Regions from separate parts of the Homo sapiens genome. Here region 1 is linked to region 2. The links come from fine-mapping of genetic effects on gene expression. Tissue or cell type: testis. Region 2 holds a variant in brackets; the other region holds the start of a gene. All regions are shown on one strand. Distances are between the middles of the regions.

Evidence for each region. PIP is the estimated chance that this variant, and not a neighbour inherited with it, causes the effect.
Region 1: FRAT2 starts here. The variant in region 2 is fine-mapped to the expression of FRAT2 in testis (GTEx, PIP 0.97).

The regions. Positions count from the first base shown.
Region 1 is chr10:97,331,347-97,339,449 of GRCh38, forward strand. FRAT2 (FRAT regulator of Wnt signaling pathway 2) reads right to left here and starts at 3,383. Exons shown (of 1, transcript NM_012083.3): 1 at 1,151-3,383. The coding sequence starts at 3,226. The coding sequence ends at 2,525. It overlaps LOC105378448 (a long non-coding RNA gene), which reads left to right and starts at 3,500. Exons shown (of 2, transcript NR_188201.1): 1 at 3,500-3,625. RefSeq lists enhancers at 2,094-3,001, 5,539-6,057 and silencers at 2,552-2,601, 2,612-2,741, 3,082-3,231, 3,322-3,471, 3,602-3,951.
Region 2 is chr10:98,287,113-98,295,215 of GRCh38, forward strand. No RefSeq gene overlaps it. Among named protein-coding and RNA genes, the nearest start is that of LOXL4, 23 kb to the left of the region's middle. The variant T/C (reference allele first, on the strand shown) is at 4,041.

The sequences.
Region 1 (8,103 bases), 960 kb before region 2:
AAGTCTCCCCTTCAAGTCCTCATTTAACCCTTCCAACTCCCCTATTAAGTACTATTGTTTTACAAATCACAAGGGAAAAACTCAGAGTCTTGACTTGCCCACCATGACACAGCTGGTGAGCAGAAAGGGCTGAGGCAACTGAGCATCAGCCTTCCTCTGCAGCCCCAGCCTCGGGAGTGTGCTGAGCAGGAGAGGTTCCCCGGGGGCTGGGTTAGTAGAGCTGGGCAAGGAAGGGGCAAGGCAGGGGCCAGGTGTGGTGGCTCACGCCTTTAATCCCAGCACCTTGGGAGGCCGAGGAGGGCAGATCACTTGAGCTCGAGTTCAAGACCAGCCTGGGCAACACAGTGAGAACCCATCTCTACTAAAAATATAAAAAATTAGCCTGGCATGGTGGTATGAGCCTGTAGTCCCAGCTACTCAGGAGGTTGAGGTGAGAGGACTGTTTGAGCCCAGGAGGTTGAGGCTGCAGTGAGCCAAGATCGTGCCACTGCACTCCAACCTGGGTTACAGAGTAAGACACCATCTCAAAATAATAAAATTAAATTAAAAAGAGAAAAGGGCAAGGCAGGAACTAGGAAGGGATTCAGCAAGGGCTCTATGCCTGGGAAGACAGGGCAGAGAGAGAATGAGGAGAGGAGGAGGGCTACTTCGGTCAAATCTAACCCCTGAGTGCTCAAACCAAGCCATTTTACAACTACCAAATACACTGCTGTAAAACCCTGTTTTTCTCTCCCAAGGCCATAGCTCAAGACTAGGTCAGTCTCAAAGGGGAAAGCAGGCTGGCTTCGCCTGTGCCCTCCCCATTTTGCACAAAAACGTCCAGATGAAAACCCACCTCCCTCCACCACAGCACCTCTTTGCTCTCCAGCCCAGAAAGCATTTCTAGAATACATTGTCTTTCCACAAAGGGAGTGGAAGCCCATCTTGCAGCTTCTAAAAACCTGGACTCAATTTTCTGATCTTGTGGAATAAAAACTTAGAAGCACTCAAGTCCTGTGGCTCTACTAGGATTCTGTGCCCATCAGCATTGGCCCAAACCATTTGTCCAGGTCCCCCCCCCCCGGTTTAGCCCAAGTGCCCTCTTTATTAAGGACATCCCCATATGCTTTTCTGCCCCTCTCCCACCTTCCACCAAAATGCCAAACCGTGCTCCAAAACAAAAGCCAAATTTATTCAGCAGACATTTTAATTATGAAATCCTATAAATCAGGACCACCACAATTTCAGACACTCCGTTGCGAAGTGTACATCAATAGCTACATCTGGAGGATGAACAAGCCATTGAATCTTTTAAAAATTGGTTTAGCTACCTTAAAGTTTGGGGGTGGCACCTTACAAAAGCGCCGTCAAGTTTCATACAGCCAGCGGCTTCTTCTCTGGGAGAGTCACATTTTAAAACCGGTTTCAGACACAAAAGAAGGGCTGGCACGGGAGGAGGAAATAAATTGTGAGGGTGAGGAGCCGCCGAGGCCGAGGCCCATGACTCCATGGAGGGCCAGAAGAGAGCAGAAAAACGTCCAGGGTCTCTCATGCATTCCTATAGACACCAGAAAGGGTGGAATAAGAAAGCTCAGCTGGGAGGACAAGAAAGAGACTCAAGAGATCGTTTATGACTGTTTCTGAGAAAGCTCCTGGCATGGCCATGAGTGGCCTTCCGGGAGTCCTGTAAAAAGGAAAGCACAGAAAACAGGAAAGAACTCTCCCTACACGTCCCTCTCTGCCTGTTTGTGTCCTCGGGAGACTCCAAGCGGTGGTAAAGCACCAACAGGGCTCTTCTTGGAGCAAGAGAAAGAAAAGACTCCGGGGTGAGTAAGCTCTCCCAGGAACCCCACAGCAAACCGTGACCTTGAACACAGATGGCAAGGTCAAGTCATTTACAAGTCCACATTCAAATCCAAATCTCCCACCTGCAAAATTCTTCACCTCTCTCCAGTCCCTTAATTGGAGTTCACATCTCCCACCTTCACCAGCCACCGAATCGGTGGGAAAAAGGGGCAATGCCAAGCCACCCACCACCAAACTTTTACATTCTTCTCCCCTCTGGAATTTCTTTGCACAGCAATTGTAGCACCACTTACTAAGCTCCTCCACCAGAAAATAAGAAAATGTATGCGTGTCGTTAGTTTTCAAGTATTGTTATAAAGCCATCGCGATTCCTACCCCTGAGCCCTCCTTAAACAATCCAAGCTCACGACGCCCCCAAGGGCTAAGTGAGGTACAAGTCGATGCAAGTAGCTGCCATAGTTCTCCCAGTTTATCCCAGGTCCTTGGGCTTGGATGGCCCGGGAAATTCTCATGCCCCACGGAAGCACCCTGGCGCATACATTTCTCCACGCTTAAGTTTTCTCCGACGGCCTCGCCGCGGCTGGTAACTTCTCTGGTTGAGATCTCTCCCCACGCGCCTCCCCGCAGCCAAAGTGGTCGCTCCCAGGCTGGCGACGTCGGCTTCAGCTCAGAGTTAGTAGGAACTGGACGCTGTTGGGTCTACGCAGCGGCCTCCACTTCCTCCTCCAGGAGGCCTGCGTCAGAGCAAGGAGCCTGAGGGCTGCAGGGCAATGCGGTCAGGTCCGCTGCGGCCTCCCCCGGGCCCAGGGGCGCTTGCGGGGCCCGTGGCTGCAACCGCGGCGACGGCTCGTTGGAGTCTCCGCACGGCTTCCTTGATGAGGTTTCCCGAGAGCACGAGCTGCTGGAGGAGCCGATGCGGGTCGTCGTCGCCGGCGCGTGCCCCGGCTTGGGTCCATCGGCGCTGCTGCAAGCGGCGGGAGGTGACCGCGTCCCTGAGCCATCCTCGCCGGCACGGCCCCGGCAGCGCGCTGGGGCCTGCGGCGACCTCCGCCACGCAGTAGGGCGCAGCGCGTCCGCGCACGCGGCCGCGGTCCCCTAGGGCGCAGCGCAGGGCCCCAGAGGGCGCCGGGCCCACCGTCTCAGCCGAAGCGGGCGGCAGCAGCAGCGGCACCGCCGGGGGCCGGGCCTTGTCCGCCGGCACCGCCGCAGCCAGGGGCCCCGGGGCCCGCAGCGGCACCCCCGGGGGCGCGCACGGCGAGGCCGGGCTGTCCTGCGCCGCGTCCAGCTGCAGCGTCTCGCCGATCTGGGCCACCAGCCGGTCCACCTCGCCCGAGCTGCCCAGCGTCACCGACTGCTGCAGCAGGAGGAAGCTGTCGTCCTCCTCTTCCTCCCCCTCCGCCTCCTCGCCGGCTTCCTCTTCCTCCTCCCTCCGGCACGGCATGGCCCCCCGTCCTGGCACCCGGAGCTGTGCGGGCTTCGCTGGGGGCTTGGTTGCCCGCGGGCGCGGAGCTGCGGGCGAAGCCGGAGCAGGGGCGGACGCGGAAGCCGGAGCCCGCCAGGCACTCGAGCCACGCGCCTGCAGCCGCTGGAGCCGGAATCCTGCCGGCTCGGGTTGATTTGTAAACAATGGGTGACGTCGCGCCGGGCCCTACCACCGCACCGGGGCGGGGGTGACGCGCGAGCAGGCACGGGGGCAAAGGGCGGCGCGGGCGGTGACCGAAGCCGTCCCGCGCCTGTGTTCGTTGTCCCTCCAGGAGGGGGTCCGGGGCGTGGGGACTGATTTCCGACCTCCCGGGCCCAACGAGCCGTGCTGAAACGTGGCGCCTCGGAGGAGGCTGAGGTTGGTTTCTCCCACGCACGGACACACCCACACCCACTCCGGGCCCGCCTCCTGGGCCGCGGCCTCCCTCCCCACGTGTCGGCCGCGCCTAAGCCCGCCCGACTCCCGCCCCGCGCACCCGCAGTTCCCGGCCCTGGTCGTGGGGGAGGGGCGGGCCGCCGCGGGTCCGGCTTCGACGAGGCGGGGCGGGGAAAGGCGGAGGGAATTGGGAGTGAAGAGGCGGCACGTTACTTATTTACTTATTTATTATTTAGAAAAGGTCTCTGTCGCCCAGGCTGAAGTATAGTGGCGCGAACACGGCTGACTGCAGCCTCGAACTCTGGCTTAAGTAATCATCCCACTTTAAGCCTCCGGAGCAGCTGGGACCACAGGCGCGGCCACCACGCCTGGCTAATTAAAAAAATTTTTTTTGTAGAGACGGTGGTGGGGGGGGGGGGTCTCACTATATTGCCCAGGCTGGTCTCGAACTCTTGGGCTCAAGGAGTCCTCGCTCCTCGGCCTCCGAAAGTGTTGGGGTTACTGGCGTCAGCCGCCGCGCCCGGCCTAAGAGGGGACGCTTTGAAGCAGAGCAGAATCGCTCTGAGGTGAGGTCCCAGAGGCTTTCCCTCCCGCAGTCTTCAAGCCCCCGGACATATCATGAGAATAGGACTCACCGCCGCTCGGCTAAAGAAGGGTCTTTTTTTTTTTTTAAGGTTCAAATAGAAATATAGGGGATTGGCCAGGAGCGGTGGGTGGCTCATGCCTGTGATCCCAACACTTTGGGAGGCCGAGGCGGGCGGATCACCTGAGGTCAGGAGTTCCAGACCAGTCTGGCCAACATGGTGAAACCCCATCTCTGCTAAAAATACAAAAATTAGCCGGGCGTGGTGGCGGGCGCCTGTAATCCCAGCTACTCGGGAGACTGAGGCAGGAGAATGGTTTGAACCCTGGAGGCGGAGGTTGCAGTGAGCCGAGATCACGCCACTGCACTCCAGCCTGGGCAACAAAGCGAGACTCCGTCTCAAAAAAAAAAAGAAAAATATAAGGGATGGAAAAAATCTCTCATGGTTCACATTTAAATTTTTTTCCTTTTTAGCCTTTGTTCTATGAAAGTGTAGTATACAAACACATGCATACAGTGTTACACACTTTTCCACTTTGCCTTACATCATAAACGTTTTTCGTGTTATTGCATGCACTTTGAAAACATTTTAATGATTACATAAGTTTCCATCAAGTGCCTATGTTTTTAACATTTGCCTAATTTCACCATCGTTAAGTGTGTAACTAACATTTTTGTGCGCGACACTTTAAGATATTGATGATTCTTTCCTTAGGGCATATTCCCAGGAGTGGAATTTTAAGTCACAGTAGTTGGGTATTTTAAGGTTTACTGATAAATGTTCAGGAAGTGTCTTTCCAAGAGTTAGGTAAATGTACTCTACCATCATTAATGCTTGAGCATACATCATTACACCTTCACTAGTATTTGAGTATTATTGAATTTTTTTTTTTTTGCGGATTATATAGGGAAATTTTCTCCCTTCAGTTTGCATATCTTTGATTTCAGTTAGGTAGAGCAGTTTTCTAAATGTTTGTTAACAAACTGTACTTCCTTTCTTATGAATTGTCTATTTCCTAATAAGATTTTCCTAGGGAGTGTTTCTTACGTATTTGCATGACTCCTTTACATACCAAATGTTAACCCTTTTCATATTTTGCCGCAAATACGTCTCCAGGCTTTTGTTGGCTCTGTACAGTCATTTTTTCCCCCACTAAAACCAAATTTTCATGTAGGCAAATTTTAAAATCTCTTTGAAATTTCTAACACGATGCTAAATTTGGAGTCTCCTTGCTGCCAGAAAGTTATTAAATATTCCATTCTATTTTCTTTAGATTTTTCAAATGCCTTGATTTTTTTTTCAAATCCATCTGGGATTAATGTTGGTCTTTGTTTCAAGGAGATGACATGAAATTAATTTTTTCCTGGAGAGCTTGCCAGCCAAAGGTGTGTTTCTTCACTAGGACAGAGGTGTGAGGGTAGCATAAACACAAGCTGTCTGGTGAGTTTCCAGTTGCTGGTTAAGCTGGTGGTTGTGAGGAGTGGGTGGGGCTGGGAATGTTTTGATCAGTCTGTTGTGTGAAGTCAAAAGAACCCAGAACAGGTTGTACAAAGACCTAGATCCAAGTCTCATTCCTGCCACATCCTGGGTGTGGGACTCCAGGCAAATCAGTTTACAAGTGTTTTCACTTGTAAATAGGAGAAATAATCCCTGCCTGGCCTCCCTCTGAGGATTGTTTTCAGGATCAAATAAGATAATGGGAACGGGTGTTGTCAGGCATTACACAAATGTAGGATTAGGTCCAGCGGTTTACTAACAGAGGTCTGGCTCAATTCCAGCGAGTCCCCCCTGGGGAGCATTTAACATAATAATGTTGAAGATCCCCCCCATGCAGCCCACTAGGTGAAACGTACCCTGAGGGTATTACTTCTGTGCACTTGCCAGGTTTCTTAAATTCTGCCTCAGGTCTACCCTGACCTGGGATTGTGTAGGGCTTTACTGAAGTCAGCCCGGAGGCTCCCATGCCCCACAGTGAGTCTCCGCAACTAGTTCTGCAGGTTTGAGTGATGGAGACTTTCCCAGTGGGCAGCCTCCCACCTCCATCTCCCGAGGGCTGTTCACACACTTTACTGATGAGGACTGGAAGCCATTCCCCCCGGAGAGACTGATTCTCATTTTCATTCCGATGGTACTTACTGGAGAATTTCGAGAGGAATGAAAATTAGGGGAGGGCTTACGGATTTCAGTAGAGTTAAAATGGTAATGTTTTCCTCCTTTCTGTATGATGATGCCTGGCTGTAAGTAGAGAAAAGCAGTTTTATGCTCCATTGATTTTAAACATTAATGGGTCTGGTTTAACTATTGTCTCTCACCCAGCATCCCTGGAAGTTGTTTTTGTTTTCCTGTCAGGGTAATTCCAATAGTGTTCTTCGTACTATAGGAAATGGAGCTTTGAGATGGCATTCTTTAAAAAAAAAAAATCTTCCCTTTGTAATGTTGCTTTTGTGTGAAGATTGCTATGTAAATATGCTGGGACTTGGATATTATACTATTCATTACAGAGATGAATTCATTACAGAAGACCAGCTCCATTTTCTGGGGGCACCTCTCTGGAGAGCTCTGAGAGAGAGAAGTGCTGTGCTGGACCAGTGGGAGGCAGAGAAATGCCCTGGATTAGGAAGCAAAATACAAGATGCTAGAAAGACTCAGATGCAATTAAAAGTAATGAGACGGTATCAAAAAGGGAAGCGATGAGAACTTGTGAGCCCAGCACACTGGCTCCCTGCCTGGAAAGACACACTCTCGGACAGCATTCACAATCGCCCAGGGAAGAACAGAATTCAAGGGTTTTCTGCATTCACTTAGATTGCGTTGAAATTCTCTGCAAGGAGTTTGCTTTCCACACAGACCTTGTTTCAAGTTACCTGCCCTCAGAGACATTAGCTACAGTACAGTGGGATGAACACTAGGCTTGGGAATACCACCTGGATGGGGTCACTTTATCCTTCCGTGCCTCTGATTCCTCATCTGTAAAATGGGGGACGGTCCCTTCTTTATGAAATGGTTATATTACATGAGAATAATATGTATGGGAAGACTCATCATGTGGACCCTGAGGGTGGTGTTGGCATAGGTTCTAGGGAGCAGAAATACTCTTAGGGATGTTCGAGTTTTGTTTTTTGAGATGGAGTTTTGCTCTTGTTGCCCAGGTTGGAGTGCAATGGCGTGATCTCAGCTCACTGCAAACTCTGCCTCCCAGGTTCAAGCGATTCTCCTGCCTCAGCCTCTTGAGTAGCTGGGATTACAGGCAAGCGCCACCATGCCTGGCTAATTTTGTATTTTTAGTAGAGACGGGATTTCTCCACATTGCTCAGGCTGGTCTCGAACTCCCGACTGTCAGGCCTCTGAGCCCAGGCCAGGCCATCGCATCCCCTGTGACTTGCACGTATACATCCAGATGGCCTAAAGTAACTGAAGATCCACAAAAGAAGTAAAAACAGCCTTAACTGATGACATTCCACCATTGTGATTTGTTCCTGCCCCACCCTAACTGATCAATGGATCAATGTACTTTGTAATCTCCCCCACCCTTAAGAAGGTTCTTTGTAATTCTCCCCACCCTTGAGAATGTACTTTGTGAGATCCACCCCTGCCCACCAGAGAACGACCCCCTTTGGCTGTAATTTTCCATTACCTTCCCAAATCCTATAAAACAGCCCCACCCTTATCTCCCTACGCTGACTCTCTTTTCGGACTCAGCCCGCCTGCACCCAGGTGAAATAAACAGCCATGTTGCTCACACAAAGCCTGTTTGGTGGTCTCTTCACACGGACGCACATGAAACCAACCTCAGGTGATCTGCCCACCTTGGCCTCCCAAAGTGCTGGGATTACAGGTGTGAGCCACCGTGCCAGCCTGATGTTCAAGTTTTTTGGT
Region 2 (8,103 bases):
CTCTCTCTCTCTCTCTCTCTCTCTCTCTCTCCACACACATACAAACACACACGCACACACATACTCATATATAGAGGGGATTTCTTAGTGGAACTGGCTCACGCAGTTTGGAGGCTGAGAAGTGCCACAGCAGACTATCTGCAAGCTGGAGACCCTGGGATGCTGTAGTGTGGCTCAGTCTCAGAGCCAAGGAAGCTGATGGTGTAATTCTCAGTCTGAGGCTGATGACCTAAGAAGCTTGGGGGCTGCTGGCATAAGTTCTGAGTCCCAAGGCCTGACAGCCTGAATTTCTGATGTCCAAGGACAGGAGAAGAAGAGTGTCCCAGGTCTAGGAGAAAGAGAGGCGATCACCTTTCCTCTGCCCTTTTTCGTTTTATTCAGGCCCCCAGCTGATTAGATGGTGCCCACTTACACTGAGGGCAGACCTTCCCCACCCAGTCCACCCACTCCCATGCCAGTCTCCCCTCCAAGCAACCTCACAGACACACTGGGAAGTGATGCCTTACCAGCTCTCTATAGAGTCCTTCATTCAGTCAAGCTGACGCTTAAAATTAACCATCACGCCAGGTATGAAGCGATAAGGACCCTCCACTGAGGTGTAGGCAAGTTCGTAGAGGTGGTCATGTTTGAGCGAATGGCCTGGTAATGGTTTAAAGGCTTTTATTGAAGTATGGGTGGTGAACAGAGCTGCCTGCCCTCCCGTGATCAATCCCAGTGCTGTCTGCCTCCTCTCAGCACCTAGTCCTATGCCTGGGCCTGGGAAGTGCTTGATAAATTCTGAATGAACCCAAGGACCTGGGCAAAGAAACATGGTTCATTACCAGGAAAAAAGGAAATTTAGACTTACCTCAGTAAAGGAGTGATCAAATAACCCATGGTATAACCCTGGTATGGAACATGGAGCAACAGAGAAAAAGGATGAGAAAAGCAATCCCATTATTGGGTGTATACCCAAAGGAATATAAATTGTTCTGCTATAAAGACACATGCACGTGTATGTTCACCAAAGCACTACTCACAATAGCAAAGTCACAGAATCAACCTAAATGCCCATAAGTGGTAGACTGGATAAAGAAAATGTGGTACATATATGGAATCTACATGGACGTGAAAAAGAACGAGATCATGTCCTTTGCATCAACATGGATGGAGCTGGAAGACATTATCCTAAGTGAACTATCACTGGAACAGAAAACTAAATACTGCATGTTCTCACTTATAAGTGGGAGCTAAACATCAAGTGCCTATGGACACAAAGAAGGGAACGACAAACACTGGGGCCAACTTGAGGGTGGAAGGAGGAGGGTGAGGATTGAAAAACTACCTGTGGGTTCTATGCTTATTACCTGAGTAGCCAAGTAATCTGTACACCAAACCCCCATGACATGCAATTTACCTATATAACAAACAGGCACATGTACTCTTGAACCTAAAATAAAAGTTAAAAATAAAAAATAAATAGAAAAAAGTATAAGAAAGACATGGAATGGTTTCCAGACATAAAGTGAAAAAAGCAAGTTCCTCACCAATGTGAGTAGAAGGATGCCATTTGTGTAAAGAAGGAGAAGCTCAAATTATGAGTATGCAAATGTGTTTGTTTGTTTGTTTTTGAGACGGAGTTTTTGCTTTTGTTGCCCAGGCTGGAGTGCAGTAGCACGATCTCGGCTCACTGCAACTTCCACCTCCCAGGTTCAAATGATTCTCTTGCCTTAGCCTCCCGAGTAGCTGGGATTACAGACTCCCACCCCCACGCCCGGCTGATTTTTGTAATTTTAGTAGAGATGGGATTTTGCCATGTTGCCCAGGCTGATCTCGAACGCCTGACCTCAGATGATCTGCCCACCTCAGCCTCCCAAAGTGCTGGGATTACAGGCGTGAGCCACCGCGCCCGGCCTGCAATTGCATTTTTAAAAAGTATGGAAAGATGTGCAACCAACGATTGACAGGGGTTTCCTCCAAGGAAGGAAGTGAGATGGGAAAGGAGGACATTCACTTTGTGTGTTTAAGTTTTGCTGTGTGTTCTGCTTTTCTTTTAAAACAACTAATATGCATTCCTTTATTACCTGTATAATTAAGACTTTTAAAAATTAGAAATATAGTCAGCTTTCTGTGTCTGCGGGTTCTGTATCCTCAGATTCAAACAAGGGCAGATCAAAAATATTTGGGAAAAAATGATAAAAAATAATACAATAAGAAATAATATATATAAAAATACAGTATGACAACTATTTACATAGCATTTACTTTGCATTAGGAATTATAAGTAATTTAGAGATGATTTAAAATAAGCTTGTCCCACCCGCGGCCCACAGGCTTCATGTGGCCCAGGACAGCTTTGAATGTGGCCCAACATAAATTCATACGCTTTCTTAAAACATTATGAGAATCTTTTGCAGATTTTTTTTCTTTCAGCTCATCAGCTATCATTAGTGTTAGTGTATTTTATGTGTGGCCCAAGGCAATTCTTCCAATGTGGCCCAGAGAAACCAAAAGATTGGACACCCATGATTTAAAGTAAATGGGAGGATGTGCATAGGTTATATGAAAATACTATACTATTTTACATTAGGGGCTTGAGCACCTGTGGATTTTGGTATCCATGGGGGGCCCAGAACCAGTCTGCACATACGAGGAATGCCTGCATAGTTATGAAATGGGTTTGAGGAGGCCACGATACTCAATTTTGTTGTGTAGTTGAGGGAACAGTGGTGGCTGACTATGCATGACCAGGAGGGGGCTGAGATGAGAATACCTCCCATTGCAGGGAGTCTCAAGCCCCAGTGTGCACCAGAATGAGCATCAAGGGGTCGCTTAAATGCAGAATTCTCAGCCGTACTGACGCAGGATGTCAGAGTGAGGGATCTGCATTTCAGCCAGCTTTCCGGGATCCTGACAACGGTGGGTCCTCGGAGCACTCCTGTGAATCCACAAAACTGCCTCCCTCCCTGGGCTTAGCAGCCAGACAGCAGGCCACCAGCCCTGCTGGCTACCTGGGCAGGGCGACTTCCCCTTCAGCTGCATCTAAGCTGAGGCAGGAGAAGCTGGTGTGTGCTCTGTGGGGCAGCCCCGCCTTCAGAACGTGTGGTTCAGCGGGGTGAACACCATCCTTTTTCACCGCTCCATGCCGTGAGCTGGTGGCACTGCTCCCCTCGGGATCTTCATTTATTGAGGGACAAAGGTAACAACTTAAGCTTCCCTGGGCCATTCTTAAAAGACACCCAACCTGCCCAAATGATCCATTCCAAATTCATTTGGAATTCTAAGCAAGTAGGGCAAACTGGTGTTAATTAAATGTTTAATTCATGTCCATTAAGGCTAGAATATTGGTTTTCATTCAAATTTATGGCCTGGTTGTATTTTTTATAGCTGCCCATATATTGCATATAGGTCATTGGTTCCCTTCCCTCAGTGAAGTGTTCAGTGTATTTACGCCCATTTTATAGGACCTGGAGCATAACTTGAGTATTTTCAGTGGTTATAGAGACACACAGTATTCACTTTATGACATTGTTGGTCACATCAGTGATAAATTTGCTGTCGAGTTACCACTGATCAGGCTAGTAATCACCAATTACAACCCTGTGGCTATGGGAAAATATGGGCTGCTTTACAGCAATCTATTTTATTATTCGATTTTCAGGAACCTGTTGAGGTTCAAATGTGAGTCCATTTGCACATTTACAAGGTAGGGGGCAGGGGTTGAAGGGCCCTTTACCTCACATGGCCAAGGCAAAGTCTAGAAGCAGACTTCTGCAGTTTCATACATGAGTTTTCAGAGTCCCTCAAAGAGTTACAGAGAGTTACAGAGGGGTCTCCCTCCAGAGTCCCTCTCATGAGTTACAGAGAGTCCCTGTAGAACAGAGTGACTGACTGATCTGTGCAGGTGGGAGAGGAACACAGAGCCTCCCTTCCTCTGTTGTTCAGGCCTTTCGGAAGCCCTGGCCCCGGACCTTTCACCTTTCAGGAGTGATTCTTCTATCAGTGATGGGGAGCTCTAGAACCCGGTCTCCAACAATCAGCAAAACAGATGCAGAGGTCAG[T/C]TTGGGTTCAGTGGCGAAAATGGGGCCCGAACTGACCCTTCTTTCCTGGTAGCCCTTGTTTCCAGAAAACTGATGTGGCATAGCTTTCAATTTCCAGAATGCATGAAGTAGGCCCCCCTCTGTTACGTGTAACATAAGAGCTGGGAGAGATCTTAGAGATCTGAGAGCCAATGTTCTTCTTTGATGATTTTTTCAAAAGAGAAAAAAAATTTTTTAAAAAAGAGAAAAAAAAATAACCCAACAACATACAAACATAACTAATTTTTCCTGCAAACATACCGTGTACCAGACCTACAGTAAAGGCTGTGCAGGCATTGCCTCATTTAGTCCTCAGAATAGGCTGCTGACGGAGGCATTCTTATTACCCCCATTTACAAATGGGAGATGTGAGGTCCAGTGAGGTTGAGTAATTGATCCGTCGTTACCCCAGCGAGAAGGTGGCTCAGCTTTAAACCAGGTCTTCCTGATTCACAGCCCAAGCTCTCAACCTTATGCTCTGGAGAATTCGTTGTTTAGTTGCGGAGTGGAAGTTGGGATCCTGAAGATCCCAGGGAGACGAGGAGGGGCAGAAGGCATAGAAATGGTCCAGAGAGAAAGTTCAGAGACACAACCACAAACGTATTCAGCCACTTTCTCCAGAATGGAACTGTATCCTCTGCATCAGATCTGTTCCTGGCCCCACACATCTGAGAACAGTTCCCACACTACTGGAAACTTCTCTGTTGTTAAGCAAAGCATTTTTGGATTTTTGCATGTTTACAAAGTATCTTTGCCTCAATATTTCTGGAGGAGTTCTTGCTTCCACATGGCATGGAAGCAGGCTGTGTGCATCCTAAACCTTTATTTAGAGCTTCTTCTGATGTTCACCACAAAGCCTGGATCACGTAACAATTGAAACACCACAAATTGTGACCTTATCAAACCTGCAAGAGTTGATCCCAGTAAACACTTGAGGTTTGGAGCAGCACAGTAACCTGCCCTCAGGCACACAGCAGAGCCCTAAGACCCAGTTCTCCAGGGACCTGCCCTATCTCTTCTCCCAAAGTTCACATCCCACTGTGTCCACCTGGAGCTTCAACTTGAGGTGCTTTCAGCCTTAAGAACACCTGGTATTTTGGGAAAGCCACAAATGGCTCACAATCACTCTGTATTTCATTTCTGGACTTAGCTTTTATTTCAGTTCCTTATGTCCCTACCCTTCACCTTGGCGGGAAGATGACTTTGTTTTCAAATAAAAGTAAAAAAGAAAGGATATCCATTGCTGATGAGAATGCAAAATTGTAAAACCACTCTGGAAAAGAATTTGGCAATTTCTTATGAAGCTAAACACACACTTACCATAGGATACAGCTCACGCCTAGGTATTTGCCCTGAAGAAATAAAAAACTTTTGTTCACAAAAAAACCTGTACATGAATGTTTATAGCAGCTCTATTCACAAAGGCCAAAAACAAAAACAAAAACCCACCTTGAAACAGTACACATGTCTTTCATCAGGGGAATAGATGAACCACGGCGCGCCCATGCAGTGGAATGCCACTTAGCAACACAAGGAACAAACTACTGATACAGGCAATGACATGGTGCATCTCAAAGGCATCACGGAATAGAAGAAGCGTGTCTCAAAGGCTACGGACTCGATGATTCCTTTATAAAGCATCCTGGAAAAGACAAAACCATGGTGATGGAGGACAGATCAGTCGTTACCAAGGTTATGGGTTGGGGAAGAGTGTGACGAGAAAAGGCAGCATGAGGTGTTGGGGTGACGGAACTGCCTGTACTCCTGAACTGTGCTGGTGGGTATGTGAATCTATCCATGTGTTAAAACTCATGGAACTCTACACCAAAATGAAAGTAAAAATGAAAAAGGAAAAGCTCCATTTCTGCCAGAACAATCTAGCTCTGACAGCACAGGAAGAGGGATTTCATGTGGAGGAGGTTGGTGCTCGGCCAATCTCTGAGGATCCTGCCTTTCCACCCTCCAGACCAGCAAGACAAACCCTGGTCTAAGGCTCTGGCTCCGGCAGGTGCGTCCATCACCAGCAGTTCCCTCAGTGCTTGGAGGACGTCCACCTGGCTGACAGTCCATCTCCACCTCCCCATGCAGTTGGGGGGCAGCAGGCTACCAGATCCAAGACTTTCTCTGGACTCCTTTGGGAGTGGCCCAGAGGCTCTGAGGCTCCTTTTCCTCTGGATGCTGGGGGGCAGCTAGATGGCTCCAGGTGATAGAGGTGTCTCTCACACATGGTTGTTCCTTTGAGCTATGCTCCACTCCTTGGGATTCCAGAGAAAGGAAGCCTCCCTTCCACTTCCATCCCCCAAATCATACACATATCCACAGGAATCAAGCAGCAGTCACTTCGTGCTGCTACTACTGGGAAAAGTCTTCCAGAATCAAATTAGCTTGAACTGGCCAACCTAGCCAGGAGCCCAGGCACACAGACATGAATAACCCGAGGATTCCAGGAAGAGGAACTGGAGGACGGTCAGCTCCCAGAGCAATGGCACCGAGGTTGGCAGTGCCTTCTGGCCCTGTCTGAGCAGGAACACATGTCTGCAGCTGGGAGCTCTGTGGATGGCCCTTGTACCACAGAGTCATATCAGGAGGCAGGAGGAGAAAAGGCCAGGTGGTGGCTTTAACCATGTGTGGTCCCAAGGGAGTGGTCCTCAGAGTGGCAGCTCATGGCACAAGTGACTGGCAAGGCCATGGTACAGAGCTGGGCAATCCTGGGCAGGCTGGGGCTGATGGCTTCGGCTGCTAGTACTTTTCCCCATTTACTCATCATACTGAAAAACAACTCAGCCCACTTGCGGTGAGCTCTGCCCTGCATTTTTCACCTTTGAGCTATCATTCCAAGGAAGAAATACCAGCCCAGGAGGAAAGTTTTGGCCAAGTTCAAAGGGAAGGGCTTGGGGAATGGAAAGTCCTCTGAAACCTTGCTTAGACGGTGACTGCCTGACCCAGATTTTGCCTTTTCAAAAATATGCTTGGAGCTCAAAGGCCGGGTGTCATGCAGACATGGGCGTGACAGAGTCACAGGGAAAACACATCAACCAGAGCACAGCTGGATCCTCACTCAGAGAAACCTCAAGCCTGAGCATTGGGCAGGACTCCAAAAGTCAGCCTGGCTGTCACATGTTTCTGCAGGGGCTTCTGAGGACACCCACAGAGGTGAGGCTTGAGCCCACCCAGTGTTCCTGGCTGGGTCTTCTCTTAGGGCCAGTTCCTGTCCAAACATGAGACTCCTCTCCCCTGTCCCCATCTCCTGGGTGTCTTATTTCCCACCCTCTGGCATGGATGCTGAGACCCAGGAGGTGACTCCAGGAGGTACGCAGTGTGGCTACTCCACTGGGCGATGTTTCTGCTGCCTGGTCTATGTTGACAGGTGCTTCCCTAACTTGACACTCCTACAGGGATGGAGCTGGAGAAAACGGGCCAGTGCAAAATTGTACATGTGTCCTCCCCCAATGCCCCAACACATACACACTTTACTGGCATCTCTATGACAAAAAGAAAAGCCCCTACCCTTTCTGTTTCTAGCAGGGCAAGTGAGTTTGACCCAGTAAAAACAATGTCTGGTCTCATCCTCATCTGCTTCGAGGAGTTAATTCCTCACTATTCCCCCTGCCCCTGGAGGAAGGAGGGGAGGAAATGCTGAGACTGAAAGGGGTGAGCCTGTAGGCTAGCCTTTTCTGGTTCCCAGTCTCTAGAGTATGGTTGTTCAGCCCTGAATTACTTGGGCACAAGCTGGTGCCCAGTACCATGACAAGCTTGGGTGTCACCCCAACCCCAGCTACCTGGGGCCCCTGCAGTTCCATGATTTCCAAAGTGTCATGTCAAAGCAAACTTTATTTTATTATTTATTTAATAAATAATAAATAATGTCACCCAGGCTGAAGTGCAGTGGTGCAATCACTGCTCACTGCAGCCTCAGCCTCTGGGCTCAAGCGATCCTCCTACCTCAGCCTCCTGTGTAGCTGAGACTACAGGTGCATGCCACCACACCTGGCTAATGTTTAATTTTTTCATAGAGATGGTGTCTCACTATGTTGCCCAGGCTGAT